Homo sapiens: one gene and its partners. The protein of the gene in region 3 binds, or shares a complex with, the protein of the main gene of each other region. Each region holds a gene or a part of one and is shown on either strand. Other genes may lie near its edges.

Evidence for each region.
Region 1: DPF1 (region 3) and SMARCC1 share a complex: the UniProt entries of both Homo sapiens proteins name them as parts of the neuron-specific chromatin remodeling complex.
Region 2: DPF1 (region 3) and ACTL6B share a complex: the UniProt entries of both Homo sapiens proteins name them as parts of the neuron-specific chromatin remodeling complex.
Region 4: DPF1 (region 3) and SMARCC2 share a complex: the UniProt entries of both Homo sapiens proteins name them as parts of the neuron-specific chromatin remodeling complex.

What each region holds. Positions count from the first base shown.
Region 1 is NC_000003.12:47,771,143-47,780,209, reverse strand, and holds part of SMARCC1 (SWI/SNF complex subunit SMARCC1), read left to right. Parts: intron 1-7,273; coding exon 7,274-7,393; intron 7,394-9,067. UniProt on the Homo sapiens protein: Involved in transcriptional activation and repression of select genes by chromatin remodeling (alteration of DNA-nucleosome topology).
Region 2 is NC_000007.14:100,641,931-100,647,849, forward strand, and holds the end of ACTL6B (actin-like protein 6B), read right to left. Parts: intron 5,604-5,919; coding exon 5,514-5,603; intron 5,355-5,513; coding exon 5,293-5,354; intron 5,156-5,292; coding exon 5,041-5,155; intron 4,902-5,040; coding exon 4,821-4,901; intron 4,717-4,820; coding exon 4,621-4,716; intron 4,423-4,620; exon of another isoform or gene 4,406-4,422; coding exon 4,319-4,405; intron 1,397-4,318; coding exon 1,316-1,396; 3' UTR 1,167-1,315; downstream 1-1,166. UniProt on the Homo sapiens protein: Involved in transcriptional activation and repression of select genes by chromatin remodeling (alteration of DNA-nucleosome topology).
Region 3 is NC_000019.10:38,209,409-38,215,192, forward strand, and holds the end of DPF1 (zinc finger protein neuro-d4), read right to left. Parts: intron 4,349-5,784; coding exon 4,236-4,348; intron 2,984-4,235; coding exon of another isoform or gene 2,954-2,983; coding exon 2,872-2,953; intron 2,726-2,871; coding exon 2,655-2,725; 3' UTR 1,598-2,654; downstream 1-1,597. UniProt on the Homo sapiens protein: May have an important role in developing neurons by participating in regulation of cell survival, possibly as a neurospecific transcription factor. Belongs to the neuron-specific chromatin remodeling complex (nBAF complex).
Region 4 is NC_000012.12:56,171,763-56,180,467, forward strand, and holds part of SMARCC2 (SWI/SNF complex subunit SMARCC2), read right to left. Parts: intron 7,295-8,705; coding exon 7,235-7,294; intron 7,086-7,234; coding exon 7,048-7,085; intron 6,773-7,047; coding exon 6,642-6,772; intron 6,332-6,641; coding exon 6,260-6,331; intron 3,003-6,259; coding exon 2,889-3,002; intron 2,088-2,888; coding exon 1,934-2,087; intron 1,268-1,933; coding exon 1,175-1,267; intron 943-1,174; coding exon 823-942; intron 729-822; coding exon 666-728; intron 176-665; coding exon 1-175. UniProt on the Homo sapiens protein: Involved in transcriptional activation and repression of select genes by chromatin remodeling (alteration of DNA-nucleosome topology).

The DNA of each region.
Region 1 (9,067 bases), on a different chromosome or scaffold from region 3:
ATAAAGTAAGACTGTCTCCAAAAAAAAAAAAAAAAAAAAAACAAAAAAAAACCAAAGACCCAGAAATGATCATTTCTTTCTTTCTTGTTTTTGAAGGTCAGCTAGAAAAATTACATTTCTTATCTGAAGTTTGAGGAAGTGAGAGACAGTAATTATATTTTTAGGTGTCTGGACTTTTCCTCCTCTGAAATTACATTTAGACTGTAGATTTTTAGTAATATTGCCCTTTCTTACACAGTGATAAATTGGTCACTTTTTAAATGTAAGTAATAGAGCTTCCAGAAGTGGCTAATGGAATTGAATATGTTATGAAAATATTGGTTAATTCTTCTTTATTACATTCCTTTTAGCCAATGCTTTGGGTCTTAAATTCAGTGAAGCTTTAACAAAGAAAAATAATCTACAGGCATATTCCTTTGAATAATATCAAGGAAGAGAGTAGAAAAAGGCAAATTTCAGTAATTTCTACCTCTCCGCACTGTTCAGTGTGCATCAGTTTGGGATCAACTACAAGAAGCTTTAGACATGGATAATCCTTCGATATTTGTTTGGGTGGGTAGGGAAGTGGCTACAAAGCAGTTTGAGGAATTGCCCAGCAGTATTGAGACCACTAGGCTAATGTTGATTCACTATCCCTGAGACTTTATAGACAAAGTTACCTTTGACTTCTCAGGACTTTGTAAAGCCAGAGTGTATTTCTAGGGTCTACTGAGATTGAGAAACGTATATACCCTAGGCCTGACAGCCAGAATCTTTTCAGTCTCTGGGTGTTAGCGTTGAAGTGGTGAAAATATTATCACAAAGTTCTTTGCTTCTTTTCTACACAGTGCATTTCTATTTGGTGTACGCATTGGTTTTAACTAACCGTTTCTAGTGCATTTAATACTGCATTTTCAGAGCAGACAACAGTTTCAGTCTCAGTAAACATGATTTTGTTAGTGTCATTTTTTATTTATTTTTATTTTACTTTATTTTTTTGAGACAGGGTCTTTCTGTGTTGCCCAGGCTGGAGTACAGTGGCGTGATCATAGCTCACTGCAACCTCAAACTCTTGCATTCAGCTCATGCATTCAGTGAACAACTGAGCATTTACCATGTGCCGGGTACTTAAAGTATAACTCACTTAAAGTCCTCATAGCAGTCCTAAATGATAGATATTATTTACCTTCTTTTTCAAATGGAAGATACCTGAGACTTCATTTAGGAATTTTCTTTTTTTTTTGAGACAGGGTCTTTCTGTGTTGCCCAGGCTGGAGTGCAGTGGTGAGATCATAGCACACTGCAGCCTCAACCTCCTGGGCTCAGGTGATTCTCCCACCTCAGCCTCCTGAGTACCTGGGACTACAGGCACGAACCACCACACCTGGTTAATTTTTTGTATTATCAGTAGAGGCAGGGTTTTGCAGTGTTGCCCAGGCTGGTCTCGAACTCCTGGGCTCTCTGCCTGCCTCAGCCTCCCAAAGTGCAGGGCTTACAAGTGTGAGCCACCACACTTGGCCCACACTGACTCTTACTTGAAATATTTTGAGACTAATAAATTTTTGTTTTCTTAAATAAAATATAATAGACTTTTTTTGATCAAAAGATTAATTGGGCCAGGTGCAGTGGCTTGCGTCCGTAATCCCAGCACTTGGGAATTCCAGGTGGGAGGTTCATTTGAGCCCAGGATTTGGAGACCAGCTTGGGCAACATGATGAGACCCTGTCTCAAAACAAAACAAAACAAAAAAATACATCAGTTGTGGTGGCATGCACGTGTAGTCCCAGCTACTTGGCTGAGGCAGGGTCCTTGGAGGATCACTTGAGCCTAGGAGGTCGAGGCTGCGGTGAACTGTGTTGGCACCATTGCACTCCAGCCTGGGCAACAGAGCGAGACCTTGTCTCAAAACAAAACGAAACAAAACAAAACAAAAAACAAAAACAAAAAAAAACCAGATTAATTGTTTATGACATAGAAATTAAAATTTCTTAATTAGGAGTCAGTGTTTTTTTTGTTTTTTGTTTTTTGTTTTTTTTTTTTGAGATGGAGTCTCGCTCTTCTGCCCAAGCTGGAGTGCAGTGGTGTGACCTCGGCCTCCCAAGTTGAAGTGATTCTTCTACCCCAGCCTCTTGAGTAGCTGGGATTACAGGCACCCGCCACCACGCTCTGCTAATTTTTGTTATTTTTAGTAGAGCTGGGGTTTCACCATGTTGGCCAGGCTGGGCTTGAACTCCTGACCTCAGGTGATCCGCCAGCCTCAGCCTCCCAAAGTACTGGGATTACAGGCATGAGCCACTGTGCCTGGCCTACATGCATTTTCATGTTTGGTAATTTGGTAGGATGATTTGGAAAAAAAATCTAATCAGAATTAAATATTTTATAGTTTATTAAAAATTGGACTGAGACTGGGGGCTGTGGCTCACACCTGTAATCCCAGCACCTTGGGAGACCGAGGCCGGTGGATCACCTGAGGTCAGGAGTTCGAGACCAGCCTGGCCAATGTGGTGAAACTTCTGCTCTACTAAAAATGCAAAAATTAGCCGGGTGTGGTGGCACATGACTGTAGTCCCAGCTACTCAGGAGACTGAGGCAGGAGAATCACTCAAACCTGGGAGGTGGAGGTTGTAGTGAGCTGAGATCGGGCCATTGCACTCCAGCCTAGGCTACAGAGCGAAAGTGTCTCAAAAAATAAATACATAAATAGAGACAGGGTCTTACTGTGTTGCCCAGACTGGTCTCAAATTTCTGGACTCAAAGTAGTCCTCTAACCTCGTCCTCCCAAAGTACTGGGATTACAGTCATGAGCCACTGCACCCGGCCTATATTCACTGTAGTTATTAAAAATATAGGCCGGGCATGGTGTCTCACGCCTGTAATCCCAGCACTTTGGGAGGCCAAGGCGGGCAGATCACCTGAGGTCGGGAGTTTGAGACCAGCCTGGCCAACATGGTGCAACCCCGTCTCTACCAAAAATACAAAAATTAGCCAGGCGTGGTGGCGTGCGCCTGTAATCCCAGCTACCCAGGAGGCTGAGGCAGGAGAATCGCTGGAACCCGGTGGGCAGAGGCTGCAAGTGAGCCGAGATTACGCCACTGCACTCCAGCCTAGGTGACAGAGCAAGACTCTCTCAAAAAAAAAAAAATAAATATTTACCTGAGGCCAGGTGTAGTGGCTCACGCCTATAATCCCAGCACTTTGGGAGACCGAGGCAGGCGGATCATCTGAGGTTGGGAGTTCGAGACCAGCCTGGCCAACATGGAGAAACCCCATCTCTACTAAAAATACAAAATTAGCCAGATGTGGTGACGCATGCCTGTAATCCCAGGTACTCGGTAGGCTAAGGGAGGAGAATTGCTTGAACCCGGGAGGCGGAGGTTGTGCTGAGCTGAGATCGCGCCATTTTACTTCAGCCTGGGCAACAAGATCAAAACTCGGTTTAAAAAAAAGAAAAAATATATATATATTTACATCTATATATTTACATATATGTTTACATATATATGTATATTTACCTGAAATGTTGATTTGGTTCCATCTGAACAGCCTTTTTCAAGGACATTGTCTTTTTCAGCTATAGAGTTTGGCATTGTTTAGTTAATCTGTAAAATACAGATTGTAGTTATTATTTTTGAGACAGTCTCACTGGGTCACCCAGGCTGGAGTGCGTGGCACGCTCTTGGCTTGCTGCAACCTCTGTCTCCTGGGTTCAAGCAATTTTCCTGCCTCAGCCTCCTGAGTAGCTGGAATTACAGGTGTGTGCCACTCTGCCTGGGTAGTTTTTGTATTTTTTTAGTAGAGATGGAGTTTGGCCATGTTGGCCAGGCTCGTCTCAAACTCCTGACCTCAAGTGGTCCACCCGCCGCGGCCTCCCAAAGTTCTGAGATTATGGGTGTGATCCTCCGTGCACAGCCGGTCATTATTTTTTTATGTTGCTTTACCGTGTACAAAAAAAGTGCAGTACATTATATGACTCCTTTAGGAAACCTGTGCTTATTAAAGATTATGAAGTTACCTTGCGGATAAGTACAATGTATTTTGTCAGTTTTGTAAGATACACTTGAAGTATTTTTTTTTTTCTCGTTTGAGACGGAGTCTCGCTTTGTCACCCAGGCTTGAGTGCAGTGGCGCACTTTCGGCTCACTGCAACCTCCGCCTCCCGGATTCAAGCCATTCTCCTGCCTCAGCCTCCCAAGCAGCTGGGATTATAGGCATGCACCACCATGCCTGGCTCATTTTTGTATTTTTAGTAGAGACGGGGTTTCACTATGTTGGCCAGGCTGGTCTTGAACTCCTGACCTCAAGTGATCTGTCCACCTTGCCCTCCTAAAGTGCTGGGATTACAGGCATGAGTCACTGCATCCGGCCAGAGTTTTAATTTTTAATTTTTGTGGGTACATAGCAGGTCTATTTCAAAGTTTATTTTATTTTATATTTTTTGAGAGTGAGTCTCGCTCTGTCACCCAGGCTGGAGTGCACCCAGGCTGGAGTGCGGTGGCACGATCGCGATCTGGGTTCGCTACAGCCTGCGCCTCCTGGGTTCAAGCGATTCTCCTCCCTCAGCCGCCTGAGTAGCTGGGACTACAGGCAAGTGCCACCATGCACGGCTAGTTTTTGTATTTTTAGTAGAGACGGGGTTTCACTGCTTTAGTCAGGTTGGTCTTGATCTCCTGACCTCGTGATTCGCCCGCCTCGGCCTCCCAAAGTGCTGGGATTCCAGGTGTGAGCCACCACCGCGCCTGGCCCTTGAATACCGTTTATTAAAAATTTACGGGGCTGGGCGCGGTGGCTCACACCTGTAATCCCAGCACTTTGGGAGGCCGAGGCAGGCGAATCACGAGGTCAGGAGATCGAGACCATCCTGACTAACATGGTGAAACCCCGTCTCTACTAAAAATACAAAAAATTAGCCAGGCGTGGTGGTGGGCGCCTGTAGTCCCAGCTACTCGGGAGGCTGAGACAGGAGAATGTTGTGAACCTGGGGGGCAGAGCTTGCAGTGAGCCAAGATCGCACCACTGCACTCCAGCCTGGGCAACAGAGTGAGACTGTCTCAAAAAAAAAAAAAAAAGTACTATGTTGAGTATATTGGAGAAAAACTGACTTCAAATTTTCACTTGAAAGTATATGGGCCAGGTGCAGTACCTTATGCCTCTAATCCCAGTACTTTTTGGGAGGCCAAAGTGAGAGAATCACTTGAACCCAGGAGTTCTAGACTAGCCCAGAGAAGTTGGTGAAAACGGTTGTGTACAGAAAATTAAAAATCAGCCAGATGTGTTGGCACGCCTCTGTAGTCCTAGCTCTCTGGGAGGTGGAGGAGGAGGATCACTTGAGCCCAGGAGATTGAGGCTGCGGTGGCTGTCATTACACCACTGTATTCCATCCTGGGAGACAGCAAGAAACCACTGTCTTGAAAAAAAAAAGTATATGGTCCTTCAAAAACTAGGCTTGCTAGTTTTTGTTGCAAATTATCAATATAGTATAAGGAAGGGGAAAGTAGTATGTAGTTTTTAAAGTTTTTAAAATTGGCTGGGCACAGTACTGTAATCCCAGCACTTTGGGAGGCTGAGGCGGGTGGATCACGAGGTCAGGAGATCGAGACCATCCTGGCTAACATGGTGAAACCCCGTCTCTACTAAAAATACAAAAAATTAGCCGGGAATGGTGGTGGGTGCCTGTAGTCCCAGTTTATTGGGAGGCTGAGGCAGGAGAACGATGTGAACCCAGAAGGCAGAGCTTGCACTGAGCAGAGATTGCGCCACTGTGCTCCAGCCTGGGTGACAGAGCGAGACTCCAAAAACACACACACAAAAAAAGTTTTTAAAATTAATTATTTGAGACGGAGTCTGGCTCTGTCACCCAGGCTGGAGTGCATGGGGACAGGTGTGCGCCACCACACCCAGCTAATTTTTTGTATTTGTTTTTTAGTGGAGACGGGGTTTCGTCATTTCAGGCTAAGTGATGGAAGAAGACCCCATCTCAAAAAAAAAAAAAAAAAAGTAAATGATTGCCTTTTTATATGCTGTAAGTAAGTTTCAATGGTAGTAGCAGAAATTGTGTGCCCTTTGTCCTATGCATAATAATTGTAGACTTTGCAGTTGATGTAATTTTGACCATACACCACTCATCTAAAAAATATTTATTGTAATAGAGACATACCACATTAACCTTGAAATGTTGGATGGTAGTTCGAAAGTTAGCTCCGGCAAAAAAAAATAAAAAAATAAAAATTCTCTCGTCCAACTGAAAGGCAGGTATAGATGTTTTTCTTGCTTGGAATTGGAGGTTTAAAAATACTTTTTGAGGCTGAGTGTGGTGGCTCACGCCTGTAATCCTAGCGCTTTGGGTGGCCGAAGTGGGCGGATCATGAGGTCAGAAGTTAAAGACCAGCCTGGCCAACATAGTGAAACCCCGTCTCTACTAAAAATACAAACAAAATTAGCCGGGCATGGTGGTTGCGCGCCTGTAGTCCCAGCTGCTAGGGAGGCTGAGGGAGGAGAATCGCTTGAACTCTGGAGGCGGAGGTTGCAGTGAGCTGAGATGATGCCATTGCACTCCAACCTGGGTGAAAAACAAGACTCTGTCTCAAAAAAAAAGAAAAAAAATTTTTTGAGAGTATTGGCTACTCAAAGTGATATTGAACATGTAATTGCCAAATAAAACTTTTACATTTAACTCACTAATTTATTCTTTTCTTGTTGTGTTACCCATTATTTTTCCTTGCTGTGAAGCTTCCTAGCTGATGTGTCTACTACTGGTTTGGGCTTTTGACATTCTTTACATTAATATGGATAATATTTCACTTTTTTTTTTTTTTTTTGGTAAAAAACACAGGAGATTTATCTTTGTGAGGTCGAGGCAGGGGCAGGTCACATGAGGTCAGGAGTTTGAGGCTAGCCTATCCAATGTGGTGAAACCCCGTCTCTACTAAAAATACAAAAGTAGTTGGGGGTAGTGGCTCATACCTGTAATCCCAGCTACTCTGGAGACTGAGGCAGGAGAATGACTTGAACCCGGGAGGCAGAGGTTGCAGTGAGCCGAGATTGCACCGCTGCACTCCAGCCTGGGTGACAAGACCGAAGCTCCGTCTCAAAGAAAAGAAAAAAAAAATTAACCGTCTTAACCATTTTTAAATGCACACACATATTTGTTTTTGTAAGCTCCTTTATAGCACAGAGCGTGTCTCAGACATCTATAAATTTCCCATAACGTAAGTACTTAGTAGGTACTAGGAAGTAAGCCAACATTTTCTCCTGCAAAAATTGTACTAGTTTTTGAATGCCTGTCTTTATCTTGCAGTATGTTCATGCGGATGCTCCTACCAATAAAACACTGGCTGGGCTGGTGGTGCAGCTTCTTCAGTTCCAGGAAGATGCCTTTGGGAAGCATGTCACCAACCCGGCCTTCACCAAACTCCCTGTAAGTACATCAGCTTACTGTTATTTGGGCATCCTCAGTTGCTGTATACTTTTAGGTGTAGCATCCAGCTTTTTTCCTTTGCTGCTGCTAGCGTGTAGAATTTAAAAAAAAAAAGCAAAAAACAAATTTTAGTTATAGAATATTACTATTTTTTAACTGTAGGAAGCTGCTTTTTGAAGAGGCATTTAACATTTGCATTAAATATTGCAGCAGTCATTGTGAAGACCTAACAATATTTTACTATGTTGCAGTTCCCTATCCTCTCGCCGTACCGAGTCTTCTCCATGCTTTCTCCTGATGCAGCTCTTATGCCATAAATAGAATTTATGGAATTTTTTATATTTTGTAGGTGAGATACCTTCTGAAGTTGTGTGAGAATATAATTTTGGTGTCCTTGCAATTGTGTGTTTTATTTTTGTTTTTACAGACAGGATCTTGTTCTGTTGCCCAGGCTGGAGTGCAGTGGTTTGATCACAGCGCACTGCAGCCTTGATCTCCCGGCTCTAGCCATCTTCCCACCTCAGGTTCCCAAGAGGCTGGGACTACTAGCATGTGCTACCACGCGCATATGGGTGACTTTTAAATTTCTGTAGTGATGGGATCTTGCTGTGTTGCCCAGGCTGGTCTCAAATTTTTGGCGGGAAGGCGATCCTTCTGCATTGGCCTCTGAAAGCTCTTTGATTACTGGTGCGAGCCACCACACCAGCCCTTCTCTGCTATCTTTATTTTATTTAATTAATTTATTTATGAGACAGAGTCTCGCTCTGTCACCCAGGCTAGAGTGCAGTGGTGTGATTTCGGCTCACTGCAACCTGCAGCGATTCTTGTGCCTCAAGACTCCCGAATAGCTAGGATTACAGGTGCGCGCCACCACACCCAGCTAATTTTTGTATTTTTAGTAGACACATGGTTTCACCATGTTGGCCAGGCTGGTCTTGAACTCGCAGCCTCAAGTGATCCACCCACCTCGGCCTCCCAAAGTGCCGGGAGTACAGGTGTGAGCCACCACACCCAGCCTTTATTTTTATGTTATGATATGTTATGTTATGTTATATTATATCATGTTATTTTTTGAGATACAGTCTTGTTCTGTCGCCCAGGCTGGAGTGCAGTGGAGTGATCTTGGCTCACTGCAACCTCTGCCTCCCGGGTTCAAGCGATTCTCCTGCCTCAGCCTCCTGAGTAGCTGGGACTACAGGCATGCACCACCCACCGCACCTGGCTAATTTTTGTATTTTTAGTAGATATGGGGTTTCACTGTGTTGGCCCCGCTGGTCTTGAACTCAAGTGATTTCCCTACCTCGGCCTCCCAGAGCACTGGGATTACAAGTGGGAGCCACTGTGCCCAGCCTCTGCTATCTTATACTCCTTTATTTATATTTTCGAACTCTGATTTTACAAATACTAGCTTTTTAGGAATTGTCTGTCATATCTTTCCTCATAATTTTTGTCTTTTAATTCATTTTGGTTTTCGTTGTTTCTAGCGTGCTGTTAGCTGCCTGTATGAATCTATGATCAGTAGACCTTTTTTGTGGGGACTGTTCTTGATCACTAAATCGTTTAACAACTTACTGATCTTTCAAATATAATTGAGAATAAGAAATAATAGGCGGGGCGTCGTGGCTTATGCCTGTAATCCCAGCACTTTGGGAGGCTGAGGTGGGCGGATCACGA
Region 2 (5,919 bases), on a different chromosome or scaffold from region 3:
CCGCCATGCCCAGGTGGAAGATTCACCCCTAAGACATCTGCCCCTTCCTCATCTGGCCTTCAGAGTCCCCCAGTGCCCCGGTCCTGTGACATATCAGCTGTCCTCCCTGTCCTGACACTTGCCCCAGTGGCATTCTAAGCTGGAGGCACCACAGTGGTGTGACTTGGGGGTCTGGTCTGGTGGTGTGCATGTGTGTCTCTTTTGAAAGGTCGTTCTCAGACTCCTGCTGGCTGCTGGAGAAGGAGGGGCACAGGTGGGAGCACATGGTCAGATGAGACCAGCGAGAGCTCCCAGATAGGGGTCCTGGGGTCAGGGATATGTGGGTCAGTGGGGAGGAGTGATCAGAGTCCCCGCCAAGGTGTGGGCAGAGCTGGGTGACCCTGGACAAGTCATGGTCCTCCCTGGGCACCGGCCCGTTTGGTCACCGAAGGACTTGGATCACATGGGTTTCTACCTCTTTGGGTTCTGAGGCTGATGAAAGGCCAGTTAGCCTCACCCCAGAAACATGTCACAGGCATAAACTGCTAAACAGGCAGGGGGCGCAGGTCCCCAAACCCTTCCGAGGGCCCCAAGACAAGTAGCTCTGAAGAGGAGGGCTCAGGGTCCCACCAAGTTTCCCTTTCGGGTTTCCCCTGGGAAACATCAGCTCCTACTCAGGTCCAGAGAAGTTCCGAGCTGCTGGGATGCACCAGCGCCCTAGTCCCCGCCCCATGTCTGTCACCACCAAGAGCCCCAGGAAGGAAGGCATAGCGCATCTCACCTGAGCGCAGGTCCTGGGGTGCTCAGGCGTGCTGCTCCCCTGAGACCTAAGGCCTACGCTGAGGCCCCGCCCACCAGGCCCCACCTCCTGTTCCGCCCATCCAGGCTTCACCTCCTGCTCCACCCACCTCCTGCCACACTCACCCCAGGCCGTGCCCCTCCACTGCACCCTGCAGCCCCTCCCACCTCCCACCACAACTGTTAGCCCCCAGCAACTCCCCCAACCCCCGGTCCTCGTCATGTGGCCCTCCCTGGGTCACAACCCCTAGGAAACCTGAGGAATCCATGGCCCCTGGGGCTGTGTCCCAGCACCCACTGTGGGATCGGCATGGGTGTAGAAGTGAGACTCCCTCCCCTCACCTCCCTCCAGACCCCTGTGCCCACTCCCCACCCCACGGAGGCCAAACTTTTTTTTCTTAAAACATTTTTACTTCTTTCAACCCAGAAACATCACCATTAATGAGGACAAGAGGGAAAGGAGGAGGGGGGCAATGTGGCATGGGGGTTAAGGGACTTCCATCTGAGCTTGGGAGCAGGTGTGTGGGGAGGAGTGCCATCAGGGGCACTTTCGCTCCACGCACTGCTTCCCGCCCTCCTCATATTCCTGCTTGGAGATCCACATCTGCTGGAAAGTGCCCTGGGTGGAGGGGGTAATATCAGGGTCAGGGTGGCCTTGGAGGGAGGTGTGGACAGGCAGGTGCAGCCCCTGGGAATCCTCCAACAGGCCCCAACCACCCCTTGGGTTCACATCCCTCTGAAGCCCCTCCCCACCTCATCCTCCCCTCCTCGGTCTGTCCCCTTTCATATTCAGAGGGAGAGTATCCTCTTCATATCATTCAATCAATAATTCATTCATTCAACAAGTATTATTGAACAGCAGTCTCTGCCCTGAGCTAGGCCCTGTTCCTGAGCTGGGGGGATGGCACGCACAGCCCCAGGCCAGGCAACCTGCACCTGGCACTCAACACCCCCTACACACACACAGTCCTTCCCCACCAGGTGTCCTCTTCTCACTCCATCAGGGCTTTGGAACACCGCCAGTCTCCCTCTTTCCCAAGGAAGATATTCCCTCCACCTCACCATTCCAACACTGTGGCACCCCATCTGCAGCCTTCGGCATTACAACTTGCCCCTTGAGGGTTCCTGCAATGAGCATCTCAGAGTGTCCCTTCTCTCTATTTTTTTAAAATTTTAATTTTAATTATTTTTATTTTTATTTTATTTTTTTGAGATGGAGTCTTGCTCTGTCGCCCAGGCTGGAATGCAGTGGTGCGATCTTGGCTCACTGCAGCCTCCGCCTCCCAGGTTCCAGCGATTCTCCTGCTTCAGCCTGCTGGGTAGCTGGGATTACAGGCGCGTGCCAACACGCCCGGCTAATTTTTGTATTTTTAGTAGAGACAGGGTTTCGCCATGTTGGCCAAGCTGGTCTCAAACTCCTGACCTCAGATGATCCGCCCGCCTCGGCCTCCCAAAGTGCTGGGATTACAAGCGTGAGCCACCGCGCCCAGCCTAATTTTTATTTTTTGTAGAGATGGTGTCTCACTATGTTGCCCAGCCTGGTCTCAAACTCCTGGGCTCAAGTAATCGTTCCACCTCAGCCTCCCATAATGTTGGGATTACAGGCGTGAGCTACCACGGCTGGGCTTCTTTGATCTTTCTCAGCCTACACACATGTGCTGTCCAATGCAGTGGCCACTAGCTTCCTGTAGCTCACCAGCCCTGGTCCAAATTGAGACGTGCTCTAAGTGGAAAATACACACCCAATTTTTTTGGGTTTTTTTTGAGACAGGATCTTGCTCTGTCACCCAGGTTGGAATGCAGTGGCACAGCTCACTGCAGCCTCAACCTTCCAGGTTCCAGTGATCCTCCAACCTTGGCCTCCCAAGTAGGTGGGACTACAGGTATGCGCCACATTGCCAGTTGCTTTTTAAATTTTTTGTAGAGATGAGGTCTCGCTTTGTTGCCCAGGCTGGTCTAGAAATTTTGGGCTCAAATGATCCTCCCGCCTTGGCCTCTCAAAGTGCTGGGATTACAGGTGTGAGCCACTCCACTTGTCCAGGATATATTATTAATACTTAATTTCAGGCCGGGCATGGTGGCTCACACCTGTAATCCCAGCACTTTGGGAGGCCAAGATGGGCAGATCACTTGAGGTCAGGAGTTTGAGACAAGCTTAGCCAACACGGTGAAACCCCATCTCTATTAACAATCCAAAAATTAGCCAGGCGTGGTGGCTCACGCATGTAATCCCAGCTACTCGGGAGGCTGAGGCAGAAGAATCGCTTGAACCCAGGAGATGGAGGTTGCAGTGAGCCAAGATTGCTCCACTGCACTCCAGCCTGGGCGACAGTGAGACTGTCTCGAAAACAAAAACAAAAACAAAAAAAGGAAAAAAACAAGAACTGTGTGGCTGACATGCTTCAGCCCTGAGCTAAGTTCAGACTGCCAGCCTCTGTCTTTCTGACCCTGGTTTCTGTCTCCCTGGGGGACTTCCTTTCTCGTGGATGTCCTCCTTGTCTGTCATGGCCCCACTGTCCCCTCTGTGTGACTGATACCCTCCAGATGCGGGTTGCAACTCCAGCTCCCTGCTCAGTACCTTCCTTCGAACCCAGCAGCAGGTCCAGACTGAACTTACCACCTCCTGCCCCAGAACCAACCTGCCTGCCTCCTTTACTAGTTGCCCCTTGCTGTCCACCCCATCCCCACTGCTACCCATGCTATGACTCCGGGACAATCAAAACAGCCTCCTTGTAAGGTCCCCTTGACCCCAGCTCATACCCCGACCCCAAAGACTCATGCCTGGCAGTCTTTCCAATCATGCCTGCATTGCCACATCACTCCCTTGCCCCAAAACATCAGGGTCTCCCCTCTGCTGACTGAGCACAGTGGGTGTATCACCAAAATCTCATCCTGACCAATCTCTCCAACTACCTGTCCCTCTACTCCCAATTTTTTTTTTTTTTTGAGAGTCTTACTGCGTCACCCAGGCTGGAGTGCAGTGGCACGATCTCAGCTCACTGCAGTCTCCGTCTCCTGGGTTCAAGAGATTCTCCTGCCTCAGCCTCCTGAATAGCTGGGATTACAGGCATGCACCACCATGCCTGGCTAATTTTTGGATTTTTAGTAGAGACAAGGTTTCGTCATGTTGGCCAGGCTGGTCTCGAACTCCTGAGCTCAAGTGATCCACCCGTCTCGGCCTCCCAAACTGCAGGGATTACCGGCATGAGCCACTGTGCGCAGCCTCTTCTCCCCAGTTTGTAAAAGTAGAGATGGGTCTTGCTATGTTCCCCTGCTGGGTTTTCAACTCCTAGCCTCAAGCCATCCCCCCACTTCAGCCACCCAAAGTGCTGGGATGACAGGTGTGGGCCACCATACCGGGCCCCTGCCCCCCGATTTGTGTCCTGTTCACCCTTCTGGGAACATTCATTGACTGACATTTCTCAAAACTAAATGTTTGTTGAATGAATGAATGAACGAAGAGGCAGTCAAAGTGGCGGGCACTGTCTGGGTCTCCCCTCTCCCCCACAGTCAGTGCTAGGCCAGGTCCCTTTCCTCTCACCAGTGAGGCCAGGATGGAACCCCCGATCCAGGGGCTGAACTTGCGCTCCATGGTGCTGTTGCTGGCAATGAGTTTCAGTCGCATGCTCTGGGGGTAAAAAGGGGCTGGGGGAAGCAGACACCTAGGTTCTGGGAAGGGACAGGGCTTGGGGGAGAGGGGAAGACTTGGGAAGCCACAGGGGCAGGGGTTCTGCTCTGGTGGCCAGAACAGAAGGAAGGACATGGGAAGGATGAAGGGACTCAGTCCTGGACAGCTGAGCCAGGACGGGTGTCCAGGGCTCTGGGTCAGGGGTGGGCTCCTACCGGTGGGGTCTTCTGGGAAAGCTCTCGATTGAGCCTGTCAGTGAAGCCCTGCAGCAGTGTGTTCCCGCCGGTGACAATGACACTCCCGTACAGGCCCTGAGAGCAGGGAGAAGGAGTGAGCTGCGGGGGCAGCCCCCCAACCCCGTCTCCCCACTTCCCCTGGGCCCCTTTGCCGAGCCTCAGCTCCGGCCTGGCCTCACCGGGCGAATATCAATGTCACACATGCCGATGCTGGTGGTCACCACGTGGCCCACACCCAACATGGTGTTCCCCGACAGGCCCTGCAGAGAGAGGTGACTGGGGCTGTGGGCTCTCTCCCCCTTCCCCCCAGACCCCTGCAATCCTTCCCAGCCTCCCCCACGCCCCAGGATCCAGGGACTGCAGCCAGCACCCACCCCAGTCCTCGCCACACAGCCAAACCTTGACGTTCGAGGGATCAAACAGGCCCTCAGGGATGCGGAGTCGCTCGGCGCCGTAGTCTGTATTGTAGCCATTGGGCATCTCGTAGTGCACTGTGGGCATTTGTGCAGCCACCCTACCCAGAAGGGAGCAGGACTCTGCCTGGGGTGCTCAAGAAGGATCAGTGCGTGGGCAGCACCAGAGCCCCCCAGCCCACCCCAAGAGTGCCGGTTCTGCCCTCTCTCCCACCCCAAAGCCCTGAGCCACACTCACTGTTCATCGTAGGGGGAGTCTGAGACCTGCAGCACGGAGGCCTGGAAGTCCTGGATCACCTCCTGAAATCCCAGCGGAGGTGGTGAGGGCCTGCCTTCCCCGTGAGCAGCACCCCCTGCCCCGCTCCCCCTCCCTGCTCCCCCTCCCATGCGGGGCCTCTGTCCCGCCCCCGATTCATGGCAGGGGAGGGGGGTTTCAGGTGGCCCTCTCCAGAGGCTCACATTACACATGTAGTTATGCCAGGACTTGGAGACCTGGGGTAGCTTCTCCTTCTTCTTCCAGTTTGGGGGGGCACCCTCCCGGACAGGCTCCTGTGGGGGCACAGTGTAGGAACACCCTTTCCTAGCCCACCTGACCCCCACCCCCACCTTCCTGGCACTGTTCCCAGCTCTGCAGCTACCTGGCGCTGCAGGCTCTGCTGTGCTGCCTGCAAGAGGGGTTTCTCACCCTTCCCTGATGGAGAGGAGAGAGAATGGGGCATGCCTCTCTCTCCATGTGTGCCTTTCATGCGGTGGGTGCAGCTGATCTGGAGAACACCAGGAATACAGCAGTGACAGAACCTCAAGGGAATGGCCTCCTAGGGGGTCATGATCCATGTGAGGGCACGGAATGGAGCTAAGCACACAG
Region 3 (5,784 bases):
CTGAATCAGGAAATTCCTCCTGAAAATCCCGAAGTCCAGCCCCTTGAGGGAAGCCTAGCCTCCTGACGGGGCTGGCCAGGTGGGGTCTTTCTGCCTCCCTTACCCATGTACCTGTCGTGGAGTTTCACATCTCTGAGCTAAAACCCAGTGCTTCTCTGACTCAGACCCTGCCCCCTCCAAAAAATGTCTTTTTCCAAAAGGCGTGGGGCTGGCATCCGGAGGAGCAGGACCAGCCATTCCCACATCTCCTAAAAATTCTGGAGTTCTAGACACCCTCCCTGTCTCCGCCCTCCTCCTCCTCGAGGCCCCGTCCTCAACCCGCACTGCCCTCCCCCCGCCACCGGGCGAAGGGGGCGGGAAGCCTGGGAACAGGCTGTTCTCACATCCTCTCCTGGCGCCGGAGCCACGCCAGCTGCTTCCAGCACCCCACAACTCGCGCGCACGCCAGCCCCTGGTCGCGCCCAAACTGTGCTTTGAGGCCCGGCCCTTCCCTTCGTGTCCCAGTTTCCAGCTTCCTCTGCCCGTCTCGGACATCCCTGTCTCTCCTCCCCAATCTTTCTGGGTCCCTCATACCTCCGGCTCTCTCTGCAGATTGTTCTGCTGTTCCCCTAAAGTCTGTCTCCTTCTCTCCCCTGCCGCCCGCGTCTCTCCCCATCTCTGCCTGTTGTCCTGGGACTTTGCCTGCCCCTGATCCCAAGTCTCTCTCTCTCCACCCGCAATGTGGCTCCCTCTCACTCTTCCCTCTCCTGATAGATGTTACCTCCTTCTCTGCCTCCCCTCTTGGAGGACCTCTCCCTAAATCTGCTGCTGCTCTTCCCCAATCACCGTCCTCCTTCTCCTCCTCCCGTCTCTCCCAGCATGTCAGCTATTTTTTATTAGTTATTCCCTCTCTGCCGTTAAACCTCCTTCTCACCCCTGCTCCCTTCCTCTCTCCTGGTCCTTCCTCCTGTCTCTCTCCCTTCTGCACCCTCTTGCTCTTTTTTCTGATTCTCTCAATAACTGTGTGACTGTCCTCGTCTCTTTCTCTCTCCTGATCTGTGTCCTAGTTCCCTCACTCCTCACTCCCGCCCCCCACCCGTCGCCCACATCTCAGTCTCTCTCCCAGTGCCCGTGTCTAGATACCCTCCTGCCCTCCCTTAGCGCCTCTCTTTCCACCTTATCGCCACCGCTGATTTGCCCCACATCCAGGACACGGAGCCCCCTGGAGATGTCTGGGTCTGGGATGACACCTCCTGACACCCCCGTTCCCCACCCCAGCCTCAGGAGGGGCCAACCCACCGTCCTCTTCCCAGCCCTTCCCTTCCCCCGGCCCGGCTCCCGCCTCCCTCCCGGCTGCGCCCGCTGCAGCTGCAGCAGCCCGTTGCCAGGGCAACCACAGCTGGCTGGGCGGGAGCCCCTCCACCCCATCCCCCTTCTCCTCCTTTCTGGCAAAGCAGGGCGGAGCTGGGACAAAGCCGGGGAGAGGCAGGGTGCAGGCAGGGGAAGAAGGAGGTGGATGGAGGTAGGGGCTGGCTGGTCGCCTCACCCCCAACAAGGCCCGTCGACCCCCGGTCCTCCTTCTTGGTGATGCCCCAAACCAGACGGGAGAACGAGGCAGTCGTGGGCAGAGGGGTCAGGCCCAGTTTAATACACAGAACAAGTTAATTCACAGCAGAGGCAGGCAATAGAGGAGACTCGGTGACAAGTGAGGGGGCACTCCTGGATTAGGGGACATCCCCCCAAAACCCACCACCTCCCCCACCTGCAGTCTCAGTTTCCCTTTTTTAAAACCCGAACAACAAACACACACAACCACAAGAAACAACCACGCCCCCTCACTCCCCCAAAATGGCCAGCGAGGGGGGCGGGGGCCGCCAGGCCTGGCGGGGCGGGAGGAGGGAGAGAAAAGGAGTCCGTGGCGGAGTCTGTGCTTCTCATTCCAGCAGGCGCTGGGCGGGGGCCCACCCGGCCCCACCACCGCCACCCACCAGCCACGGCAGGCACGGGGCGGGCACAGGCTGGGGCGGTCGGGGAGGGGCAGGAACAGAGTTCAAAACCAAGGTTCACATCATGCAGTATCCACCGTGGGCACCAGGAGGGGCGGGTGGACACCACGCCCACCGCCCTGGGCACAAGAGGGGAAGGCGCCCACCTTGGGTGGGGCGCGGGACGGCTGCAGCTCCAGAAATTGGGGTTGGGGCGCCCGGCGGGGGGCCGGCAGAGGCGGGTGCCCGGTGGACACTCTCAGCAGCGCCCCTCCACCCAGCCAGGCCTTGGAGGACTCTTTGTATATATTAACTTCTTTTCTTTTCTTCTTTTTTTTTTTTTTAACTTTTTGTCTTTTTCTTTAGAAAAAGGCTCTGTCCATGCCCCTGGCTGGCACCCACCACCCCCCATGCCCGCCCAGAGGCGGGGTATGGCTTTGAGGGGAGAAGCCCCTGGTGTCCATTTGCCAAGGGACAGAGAGGGAGGGAGGGAGGGAGAGGCCCTGGCCGGGCCCACCCACCCACAGGGCAGACATTCCACTTGCACAGAGGGGAGGGGGTGGCCCAGCCCCCTCTCGGCTTCCCCCTCTCCCCCTCCCCCTGCGGGATGTTCAGGGTGGGGGAGAATTGAGGAGCTCGGAGAGGCAGGTAGGCGAGCACCACCCCAGAGTCGCGGCGAGCCGAGCCGGCCTAGGTGAGGGTGATGTAAGCAGAAGCCTTTTCCTTCAGGTGCCGGAGACAGAGGTGACAGCTCCAGCTCCCTGCGGGGGCAGCCGAAGCTGAAGTCAGGCCCGGGTCCGGGAGGGCTGCCCCAGCCCCTTCCCACCCCGAGGACACACAGTCTTCCACAACCAGGAGATGGCGTTCCCACCCACCCGCCCCATGGGATGCCCACCTCTCCTCTCACCTTCCGGGGGCTCCGCCATGGGGGGACTCAGGCAGTACATGTGGTAACCCCGATCGCAGTCATCACAAAACAGCAGCTGGTCCTGGGGGGTGAGACCCGCCCAGCTGGCACCCTGGGGGCACGGGCACCAGAAACGGGGGTGGGGGGCTGGGGCAGGGGCTAGGTCAAGGGGGCTGGGGGAGGTGAGGCCTTCCGAGAAAGGTTCTGAGAAGGTCTTTGCAGCAGGAAATGTGTGCGCAACACTGCTTAGCCAAACACATATCCCTCAGGACAGTCCCTTTGCGATTTATAGTGGGGGTTTTATAAGGCTCTGTGGAAGGCTTATTATTATTATTATTTTATATTTTTAGAGACAGGGTCCTACCCTGTTGCCCAGGCTGGAAGTGCGGTGGTGCAGTCACAGCTCACTGCAGCCTCACACTCCTTGGGGCTCAAGTGATTCTCCTGCCTCAGTCTCCTGAGCTGGGACTACAGGTGTGCGCCACCATGCACGACTTTTTTTTTTTTTTTTTTTTTTTTGAGACGGGAGTCTCACTATGTTGCCCAGGCTGGTCTGGTCTAGAACTCCTGGGCTCAAAATTCCTCAGCCTCCCAAAGTGCTGGGATTACACAGGTGGGCCACCGCTCCCGGTCTGTGGGAAGTTTAAATGACACCAAGATGATCTGATAGCAGCTCTGCCAGAAACGGTCATGGCTTTTGTTTTTGTTTGTTTTTTTTTTTTTTGAGACGGAATCTCGCTCTGTCACCCAGGCTGGAGTGTGCAGTGGCGCCATCTCGGCTCACTGCAATCTCCACCTCCTGGGCTCAAGCCATTCTCCTGCCTCAGCCTCCCGAGTAGCTGGGATTACAGGCACCCAGCTAATTTCTGTATTTTTGTAGAGATGGGGTTTCACCACGTTGGCCAGGCTGGTCTCAAACTCCTGATCTCAGGTGGTCCACCCACCTCAGCCTCCCAGAGTGCTGGGATTCCAGGCGTGAGCCACCGCGCTCCGCCTGTGGAAGGCTTTAAACAACCCTAAGATGATCTGATACCAGCTCTGCCAGCAGTGGTCATGGCTTTAAATCTCAGCTCTGCCATTTCCCTAGCTGGCTGACCCTGGGCAGGTCTCTTTCCCTCTCTGAGCTCAGTTTCTTCCCTGTGAAGTGGAAACAAGACCACCTGCTTCAGAGGGTGGTTGGGAGGATCCAGAGAGATGAAGAGGAAAAAGGGCCAGGTTCGATTTATGGACACCGGCATAATGATAACACAGGGGACTGGTGTTCACCAGGGAAGGCTCAGGCACAGGCTTTAGGCTTAAGGGGCAGAGGTGGACGTGCCAGGCGGGGCGGGCAGCAGGGCACGCGGGGGGCGGGCGGCACTCACGTCGTTCTCGGAGGTTCCGCACAGGCTGCAGGATTTGCACTCGATGCACTGCCAGCGGTAGGTCCGCACGGCTGCCGTCATGTTCACCGTGAATTGTAAACACGAGGGGTGTCCTGGGGGCCAAGGGGCAGGGGTGCAGTTAGGAGGTCACCGTGCCCCTGGTGGGCACTGACCGGCAGGGGAGCCATAGCTCAGCCCCTACCCCTGGCTCATGACGCCAGGATGAGCTGCCGGGATCCACAGCCTGACCCCACACCTGCCCAGCAACCACGTGGCCGGCAGCAGTCCCCCGGCCACCACAGTCTCCTACCACAACCACCATGGCAACCACACTCTGCTCCCCAGAACGCCATGGCAACCGCATTCCATTACCCACAGTGCTGTGCCAACCACTTTCTACCACCCACAACACCGTGGCAACCACATTCTGTTAACCACCGTGCTGAGACAGCCACTTTCCATTACCCACAGCAGAACGGCCAGGGGTCCTGTTAACCACAGCAACGTGGCAACCACACTCTCCCAGCCACAATGCCATGGCAACCACCTTCCACAACGGGGTCCCCACACTTCGGTTTCATGCAACTGAAGTCCATTCCACTTGGTGCCCCAGCAACAAAACTGTTACTCACATCACAGCACTGTGCAGCGCCAGGCTTAGTCATTCCACAGCCCCGCTGCAGAGACACCCGCAGCCGCTACCTGCAGCCACGACCCATGGCGCCCGCCCCCTGCAACCACGGCCCCGGTGCCATCACAACTACATTCCATTATACTGAGTTGCCATGACAACCATATTTCACTACCCATGATGCCACGACAACCACAATTCATGACCTACTGTGCTGAGGCAACCAGAGTCTATATTGCCCACAAGCCCACCATGGGAAACCACATTCTGTTAACCACAACTCTATGGCGAGCTCATCCTGCTACCGGTGCCCAGGTGGTGGTGTCCGTCACTCACACCACACAGCCCACTACCTGCCATGCCTTGGCCCCTGTCTCTTGCTACTCCTTTTGTCTTGTTTTGGTTTTTGAAACAAGGTCTCACTCTGTTGCCCAGGCTGCAGCATAGTGGCACCATCACAGTGCACTCTGCAGCCTTGACCTCCCAGGCTCCAGCGATCCTCCCACCTCAGCCTCCCGAGTAGCTGGGACTAATGGGGTGCGAAACTATGCCCAGCCTTTTTTTTTTTTTTTTTTTTTTGAGACGGAGTCTTGCTCTGATACCCAGGGTGGAGTGCAGTGGTGCAATCTTGGCTCATGGCAACCTCTGAGCCCCGGGTTCAAGCGATTCTCCTGCCTCAGCCTCCGGAGTAGCTGGAACTACAGGCACGCACCACCACACCCAGCTAAATTTTGTATTTTTATAGAGATGGGGTTTCACCATGTTGGCCAGGATGGTCTTGATCTCTTGACCTCATGATCTGCTCGCCCCAGCCTCCCAAAGTGCTGGGATTACAGATGTGAGCCACATCACCCAGCCTGGCCTATTTTTTTTTTAATAGATGGGCTCTCATTATGTTGCCCTGGCTAGTCAAAAACT
Region 4 (8,705 bases), on a different chromosome or scaffold from region 3:
CCGACTGACTGAAGGGGATGGGTTGGTAGGCCAGGGGGCCTAGGGAGGCCTCTGAGTCCTCCAGGTATGGGTCTTCAATGGGAAGACGAAGAAAATGCAAGATGCACTCGTCCTGTGTGCGGCTTCCCACATGCTCGGACACTTTGTTCCAGTCATCTTTGTACATTTCCAGTGCCTGGTGGTAGTGGTGGAGACATAACTCCGCTTACTTAGCCACTTTTCTCGAAGGCTGACTCCCCCCATCCTACTAAGGGCAGCTGGTTTCAAAGTTCTCTATGTTCTGGTATTTGTGTACTCTGCTAGGTCCAAGGGGGATCTTGAAGTAGCACTAAGAAAGGATATGAAGTTAATGAAATGGCCCAAATCCCCAGCCTGGAGCTGGTCCTGAAGCTCACTGGAGCCTTGACCTCCTAGGCTCAAGCAATCCTCCCACTTAGCCTCCTGAGTAGCTGGGACCACAGGTGTGTGCCACCACACCTGGCTAATTTTTAAAATTTTTCGTAGAGACGGAGTCTCACTATGTTGCCCAGGTTCATCTCGAACTCCTGGACTCAAGTGATCCTCCTGCCTTGGCCTCCCAAAGTGCTGGGATTACAGGCGTGAGCCTCTACACGGAGCCCACTTCTGTTTTCAGAGAAAAACTCTCTTTTCTTTGCCCCAATTACCTCCAGGAGAAGCAGGGTTTCCTGTTCTGTCCACTCACGAGTGGCACTGGCTGCAGCCTTGCTCTGCAGGGGAAACACAGGCAGGTGAGAAGAAAGGAGCCTGTGACCTCTGAGGAGCGAACATTCTCTACCCCTAGAGTCGGCCCGCACCTCCTACCTTGGAGGGAACATTCTTTTTTGTGTACATGTCTGTGCGCAGCCCAAAGTTTTGCATGTCTGTTGGTTTCTCTTTGCCTTTGTCAGGAAAGTTGAGCATTTGTTGGGAAGCAGAGGTCTGCTATTTGTGGAGGGAAAGAAACAGGTGAGTACAAGTGACCACCGGGAGCCAGGGGCTGACAGAGAGAAAAAACAGACAGAAGGAGCTTCTTTCCCAAAGCCAGGGACACCCCTGGGTGGGACTTCCTCCCTTACTGCTGTAGTTCCTCTGCTCTCATGTCTCTTCTTCCCGGGCAGGGGCCCCCCAATAAAGGGGAAAATGAGCAGCCCAGCAGGGTCTGCACCCCACCTACCAGCTCTGGCTTGCCCTTAGCCGTCTCTGGCACCAGGTCATCCAGCTCTTTGCCCTTTCGCCCAGCCTTGGTATCAGCATCAACCTGGCGGCCCTGGGGGACAGAGCTTGGCGTCATGGAGGCTGGGCAGGAAATGACCAGGCCAAGGCCCTGGAGGCCTCAAGACCATATGCTGGGCGGCCCACAAGCTCTGGGGGCACTCATGCCACTGTTCCATGTTCCCTTCATGATTAATAAGACATGTCGTTGGCATGATATCCATACATATTCACATTATCTTTATAGGTTCTCTTAGGAGCTGGACAATTAGGTTCTAATCCTAGATTTGGTACTCTGTGACCTTGGGCAAGCCACATAACCTTCTTCCTAATTTTTGTAATGGATGAAGTGGAAATGGAAAAAAAAATGAAGATGATAATTATGAGGCAAAAATGAAAAAATGTGGCAAAGATGACAAAGTTTAAAAATTTCATGCAAGTTAATTTTAAGCCATTTTTCTCTATTGACTCCCCTACATTAGCCTGTCTACTCCTTGAGTAAAAGGATAATCTCTTCTCCCTCAGCAATTACAGCCTTAGGTACAAAGGCTGAGAGAGGATGCTAAACACATGGGGCTGATTCCCGTGACCCTTTGCATCCCATGGAAAAGGAAGAAGCCTCAAAACACTCCTGAACCATTACCCTAAAAACCAGAAAAAGAAAAGTTCAAAGAAGCCCAATCTTCCCAACCCGCCCCATCCCCATAGCACCTCACCCTACCTGAGGTGTCTTGGGCTGCAGAGGCACCAGCCCTGATGGTGTGTCAGCCAAGACATGGAAGTGAGAGGTAGGCGGAGGCCCCATTGGGGTTGGTCGACTCTCAGCATCCACCTGGTAGTTAATAAGACCCCACTGTTCTAGGAAGGCATGGACCCTGTGCAGAGAGAGGCAGAGACAGGGTCACACGGATAGCCAGAAAGGTGCACGAGGAAGAGGAAAAGTGGGGGGTAGAAGGGGCATAAACCCCCTCCCCACCCAACCCCGGCCTTTTCCTCTGTTCATTGTACTCCTTAAGAAATCTCACCTACTCCAGTTGTTCATTTATCACCTAAATGCCAGTGACACCCAAGTCTACATCTTCAGCCTGGGCCAATCTCTATATCTACCTACCTACCGAACATTTCTTCCTGAATAGCTAGTAAAACTGAACCAGTTTCTTTCTTTTTTTCCCTAAGAGAGACTGAAGTGCAGTGGTGTGATCACCGCTCACTGCAGCCTCCACCTCCAGGGCTCAGGGGATCCTCCCACCTCAGCCTCCTGAGTCACTAAGACCACAGGCACGTGCCACCATGCCTAGCTAATTTTTTTGCATTTTCTCTAGAGATGGGGTTTTGCCATTTTGTCCAGGCTGGTCTCGAACTTCTGGGCTCCAGCAATCCTCCCACCTTGGTCTCCCAAAATGTTTGGATTATAGGCATGAGCCACCACACCTGGCCTGAACCAGTATCTTTCAATTACAGACATGCTCCTTCTTTGTCCTATATTCTACACTTCAGAGAATGCCATTGCTAATCCCTCAAGTCATTCATTCCCCAAACCTGTACTTCACCTTTCTCTAGAGGTGCTTTTTTCTGTCTGCTCCTCTGTGTTCCTTGCTGGCATCTCTACTGTTGCCAAAACACATCCATAGGCAGGCATCCTCATGTACCCCCTTCCCCTCAGCCACAAGACCCACCTCATGATGGCACAGACATCACCCGCTAGGTTTCGGCGGCAGGCGGTAGAGGTAAGATACTCTTGGGGGTTCAGTCGGTAAGTGTCAATCATAAAGTTTCGATAGGCCAGGTAGCTTAGAAGAAAGAGAGAGAGAAACAAGAAGAAGAAAAATAAATGTTTGTTAAAGGGCTAAAGGAAAAAATGGTAAGAGAGCTAATGACTTCTCCTGCATGATAAAGATGGAAAAAAGTAGATTATTTGACTCTACATGCTGAGTGCCTGCTATGTGCTAGATGAAAGGGTTTCAAATATGTCTTACTTTTCCTTGATGGGGTTTTCTTTAAATGAATTATCTCCTTGGCTATACTTAGGGATATTTCATACAATTTTTTTTTTTGAGATGGAGTTTCCCTCTTGTTGCCCAGGCTGGAATGCAATGGCATGATCTTGGCTCATGGCAACTTCCGCCTCCTGGGTTCAAGAGATTCTCCTGCCTCAGCCTCCTCAGTAGCTCTGATTACAGGCATGTGCCACCACGGCCGGCTAATTTTGTATTTTTAGTAGAGACAGGGTTTCTCCATGTTGGTCAGGCTGGTCTCAAACTCCTGACCTCAGGTGAGCCTCCTGCCTCAGCCTCCCAAAGTGCTGGGATTACAGGCATGAGCCACTGCACCTAGCCATTTTATACAATTTTTAAACAAGGAATTAGAAGTTAAGAAAATACTCATTTCCAAACTCAGATGTTAAAAGGAAGTCCTTATTCATGCATATAGCTAGTCAGCATACCACGGTAAAAAACATATGTTTTGAAGTTGAAAAGATCTAAGTTCAAATCCCAGTTCTACCATGAGGACCTTGGCAATTTACTTCGAATTTTTAAACCTCAGTTTCCTCATTTGTAAAATGGAATGTCTGTTGAGAGGTCTATAAAGTACTAGTATAGTGCCTGGCGCATTGTAGGGGCTCAAAAAAATGGCAGCTATCATGTGGTACAGTGTAAAGTTTCAGATCATGGGCCAGATTAAAGGATTCAGATCCTGGTTTTATTTACTAGCTCTGTGACTTTATGCAGGTGACTTGACTCCTCTATACCCTATCTGTCAACTGAAGATGATATCTACCTCTAAGGTTGACGTAAAGATTAAATTACTCAATGTAGGTTGGACATTTAGTATAGTGCCTGGGAGATACTAAGCTCTCAATAGATGCAGGCAATTATCATCATTTACTATTTTTTTTTTTCTGAGATGGAGTTTCACTCTTGTTGCCCAGGCTGGAGTACAATGATGAGATCTTGGCTCACTGCAACCTCCACCTCCCGGGCTCAAGTGATTCTCCTGCCTCAGCCTCCCAAGTAGCTGGGATTACAGGTGCGTGCCTCCACACCCAGCTAATTTTTGTATTTTTAGTAGAGACGGGGTTTCACCATGTTGGCCTGGCTGGTCTCGAACTCCTGACCTCGTGATCTGCCCGCCTGGGCCTCCCAAAGTGCTGGAATTACAGGCGTGAGCCACCATGCCCAGCCATCATTTACTATTTTATACCAAGAGTTCAGTTCCTACTCCAACCCTGCCTGCATGTCATGTTGAATTCATTTCACCTGATCACTACTTTCTTTTCACACATACTGCTTTCTCCAGGAAGAGAAGGAAGAGAGAACCATAGCAAGCTATGAAGAAAAAACACGGAGGGACCCCCAGAGAGGGGAAGCTGTGGAATAGCTGGGAAGAAAACTTGTTCAGTTCTCAGTCTCACCCACCTCATCAATGTGGTTATCTTGAAGTATTCCTAACCAAAGAAGACTGCCATGTCTTATCCAAAGCCAAGCAGGTTTGGCCTGAGGCAAAATCTTTTTTTTTTTCTTGAGACGGAGTCTTGCTCTGTCGCCCAGGCTGGAGTGCAGTGGCGCAATCTCGGCTCACTGCAAGCTCTGTCTCCCAGGTTCATGCCATTCTCCTGCCTCAGCCTCCCAAGTAGCTGGAACTACAGGCGCCTGCCACCACGCCCAGCTAATTTTTTTTTTTTTTGAGACGGAGTCTCGCTCTGTCACCCCGGCTGGAGTGCAGTGGCGTGATCTCGGCTCACTGCAACCTCTGCCTCTCAGGTTCAAGTGATTCTCCTGCCTCAGCCTCCAGACTAGCTGGGACTACAGATGCATGCCACCACGCCCGGCTAATTTTTTTTGTTTTTGTTTTTTTGTTTTTTTTGAGACGGAGTTTCACTCTTGTTGCCCAGGCTGGAGTGCAATGGCGTAATCTCGGCTCACTGCAACCTCCGCCTCCCGGGTTCAAGCGATTCTCCTGCCTCAGCCTCCCTAGTAGTTGGGATTACAGGCACGTGCCACCACGCCCAGCTAGTTTTGTATTTTTAGTAGAGACGGGGTTTCTCCATGTTGGTCAGGCTGAGCTCGAACTCCTGACCTCGGGTGATCCGCCCGCCTCAGCCTCCCGAATTGCTGGGATTACAGGCATGAGCCACCGCGCCTGGTCTTTTTAGTAGAGATGGGGTTTCATCATGTTAGCCAGCATGGTCGCGATCTCCTGACCTTGTGATCCGCCCGCCTCGGCCTCCCAAAGTGCTGGGATTACAGGCGTGAGCCACCACACCCAGCCTTGTTCATTAATTTTTTTAGATACGGGGTCTTGCCGTGTCAGCCAGGCTGGAGAGCAGTGGTGTGATCATGGCTCACTGCAGCCTCAAACTCCTGGGCTCAAGCAATCTTCCCATTTCAGCTTCCGAAGTAGCTGGGACCACAGGTATGCCCCACCAGGCCCAGCTAATTTTTTTTCACTTCTTTAGAGATGGGAGTCTTGCTATGTTGCTCATGCTATTCTTGAACTCCTGGCCTCAAGGAATCCTTCTGTCTCAGTGTCCCAAGTAGCTGGGATGATTTACAGTCGTGAGCCACCGTGGCTCCTACACTTCTTTCCCAGTGAGCCCTCTCCATCCCTTAATTTATATAAACTGGTCTTCTATTAGTTCCTTCTCTTGTTTTTCTATTAAAACCTACTCTCAGGAACCAGCCTGGTAATAGTAATTTACACTTTAATCAAAACTTTTGTGCTAGGAATATCTGCAGTATAGACGATATCAGTAATATGGATTTAAAGGCTCTATACCCTGTTAAAAAGAAGTTGAGGCACTGGAGTAGGTACTTGTTATGTATAGAACATGCTTAATATCACCCTTGGGCAAATCCTAAAGAACATGTGTCTACATGCTAGGCCAGGGCTGCCTAAAGGCAGATATTGTGCCTTTGTAAGCCTAGCATAGTGCCTGGCTCATGGAAGATGCTCAAGAAATGTTTGCTAAACTGAATGTTACTGGATCAGGAAGGGTGAATGTGGGGACAGGAGGGAGAAGGAGAATCATGAGATGAGATTTCCTTACATCTCTGGAGTCTTGGACTTGTTCTTGCCGTTGAAGAACTCGGGGAGAGCCCTCCGCTCAATGGCATGAACACTGCAAGAAAAGCCAGAATGGTTTCAGAAGAAGGCATTGGTGAAGGGATGGGGGCCCCAAAGGGAGGAAAAGCCTAGAAGGCAAAGAAGGAAAAGAGCTCGAAATTGCTGAAGTTAGAAGCTTGGGGAGAACATCCCACAGGCTGTAAGACTCAAAAGGACACAAGGAGCTCCCCTAAAACTAAAGTGTACTCTGGTCTATTTGGGTGAGGAAAAAATAACTTATTTGGAGGAGGCAGGGAGAAGAACAGCCTGTTGACCCCTGGAGGCAGGGAAATAAGGACTCAGTGAGAAGTTGGGGACAACCATACCTATTGTAGTCAAACCAGGCAGCGTAGCTGGGAATGATGATGTGGTGGGTCTGTTCAGTCACATTGTCCTCATGCAGGTCTGGATTCTTGGTCTGCTCTCCCTTGTTCCCCGTACTGTTCTCATCCTCATCCTACGAGTATGGAGGCTGCTGGACACTCAGCATTCCTGCTTCCTCCCTAGCAACCCTCTGCTTCTCCCACACCCCAGGAATGTGGACACTAAAGATGGGTGATGGGACTGAGCAGTCATGGGCCCCAGGACTCTGAAAGGGTCAGAGTTTTGAACAAAGCTGGAATTAGTCTACAGTGGGTAAAGTCTGGGCAGTGAAAAGTTTGGGCAGAATGAACTTTATAATCACAAATCAGAATCACATAGAGAGGTAGGGCCTCTCTAAACTGGCTCCACCTTGCCCGTCGTCTCCATGCTTTCATCTTCCTGTTCATCTGAAAGAGAAAAACCAAGATGTAAGGCTGGAGCCTCCTGAGGGGCAAGAAAGCCCTACCAAAAGCCCATCAGGCTAGCGAAAAGGGGGCAGCTGAGCCCTCCCCTTCCCTTGGCTCTGACTGCCGTGCCCAAGAGGCTCCTGTCTTACCCAGGTCGGTCATGGTGCCGCCTTTGACTGGGGCCGACTCTGAGTCTTTCTTTGTGTTGACTGCGAAAACAGAGAGTCATTTTATCAGACAGATTTTGCCTAATTCAAGCCTTCAATTTAATAGTTCCAGACATCCTACTTTCTCCAAAAATTGTCTCCACCTGATTGCAAAATATAGTAATTCTCTCCAGTCACAATTATTCTAGGGCTTCAAACTTCTTGCTACTTTCCCCACTTCTCCAACCAAAAATTAATTTAACTTATTTCTCTATGTACATTCATAAATGATTCTTGTCTTTGACAGGCCTTTATCTCCATCTATGTATCTGTAAGCTTTTAATGGTCTGATACTGAATCTGACCAAATCACTCTGTGGAAGAATGGTTAAGTGTTAAACATTTTTGAAAGCAGAGGATACTTTCCTCAACTGAATTCATATACATATGCTCAGGAGCAAACATAGAGAAGAGAGAGAGCTGATTGATGAGGAGGTAGAAGCCAGAACTCTTCTTGGTGGCAGCCCTAATCCTACCCCTGAAATACACTTCTGGAATACCTGGGGTGAGTCTACAGAATACAGACTGTAAACCAGTATTGGTGGAGCAATGTCTCCAAAGTGGGGTTCTAACATAGGACGCAAAAGATGATCCACTGCAACTCAGGGAGAGAATACAGAACTTCTCTTCATGTTTTTTGTTTTGTTTTTTTGAGACGGAGTCTCGCTCTGTCGCCCAGGCTGGAGTGCAGTGGTGCGATCTCGGCTCACTGCAACCTCCACCTCCCAGATTCAAGTGATTCTCCTGCCTCAGCCTCCCGAATAGCTAGGATTACAGGCGCCCACCACCACGCCTGGCAAATTTTTGTATTTTTCGTAAAGATGGGGTTTCACCGTGTTAGCCAGGATGGTCTTGATCTCTTGACCTCGTGATCCGCCTGCCTCGGCCTCCCAAAGTGCTGGGATTACAGGCGTAAGCCACCGCGCCCTGATTCTTCATGTTTGTTTTTATCATTCTTTACATTTTTCAATTTTTTAGATATGTTTGTGTTTTAAAACGTTCCCATGGTAGCGGCTTAACAGTACAAGTACATAATTAATGCATATATACATTTTTTTTTCTTTTTTTTTATTTGAGATGGAGTCTCGCCCTGTTGCCCAGGCTGGAGTGCAGTGGCGTGATCTCAGCTCACTGCAAGCTCCGCCTCCCAGGTTCACGCCATTCTCCTGCCTCAGCCTCCTGAGTAGCTAGGACTACAGGCACCCGCCACCACGCTCAGCTAATTTTTTTGTATTTTTGGTATAGACAGGGTTTCACCATGTTAGCCAGGATGGTCTCGATCTCCTGACCTCGTGATCCGCCCACCTCGGCCTGCCAAAGTGCTGGGATTACAGGCATGAGCCACCGTGCCCGGCCCTTTTTTTTTTTGAGATGGAGTTTTGCTCTTGTCGCCCAGGCTGGAGTGCAGTGGTACA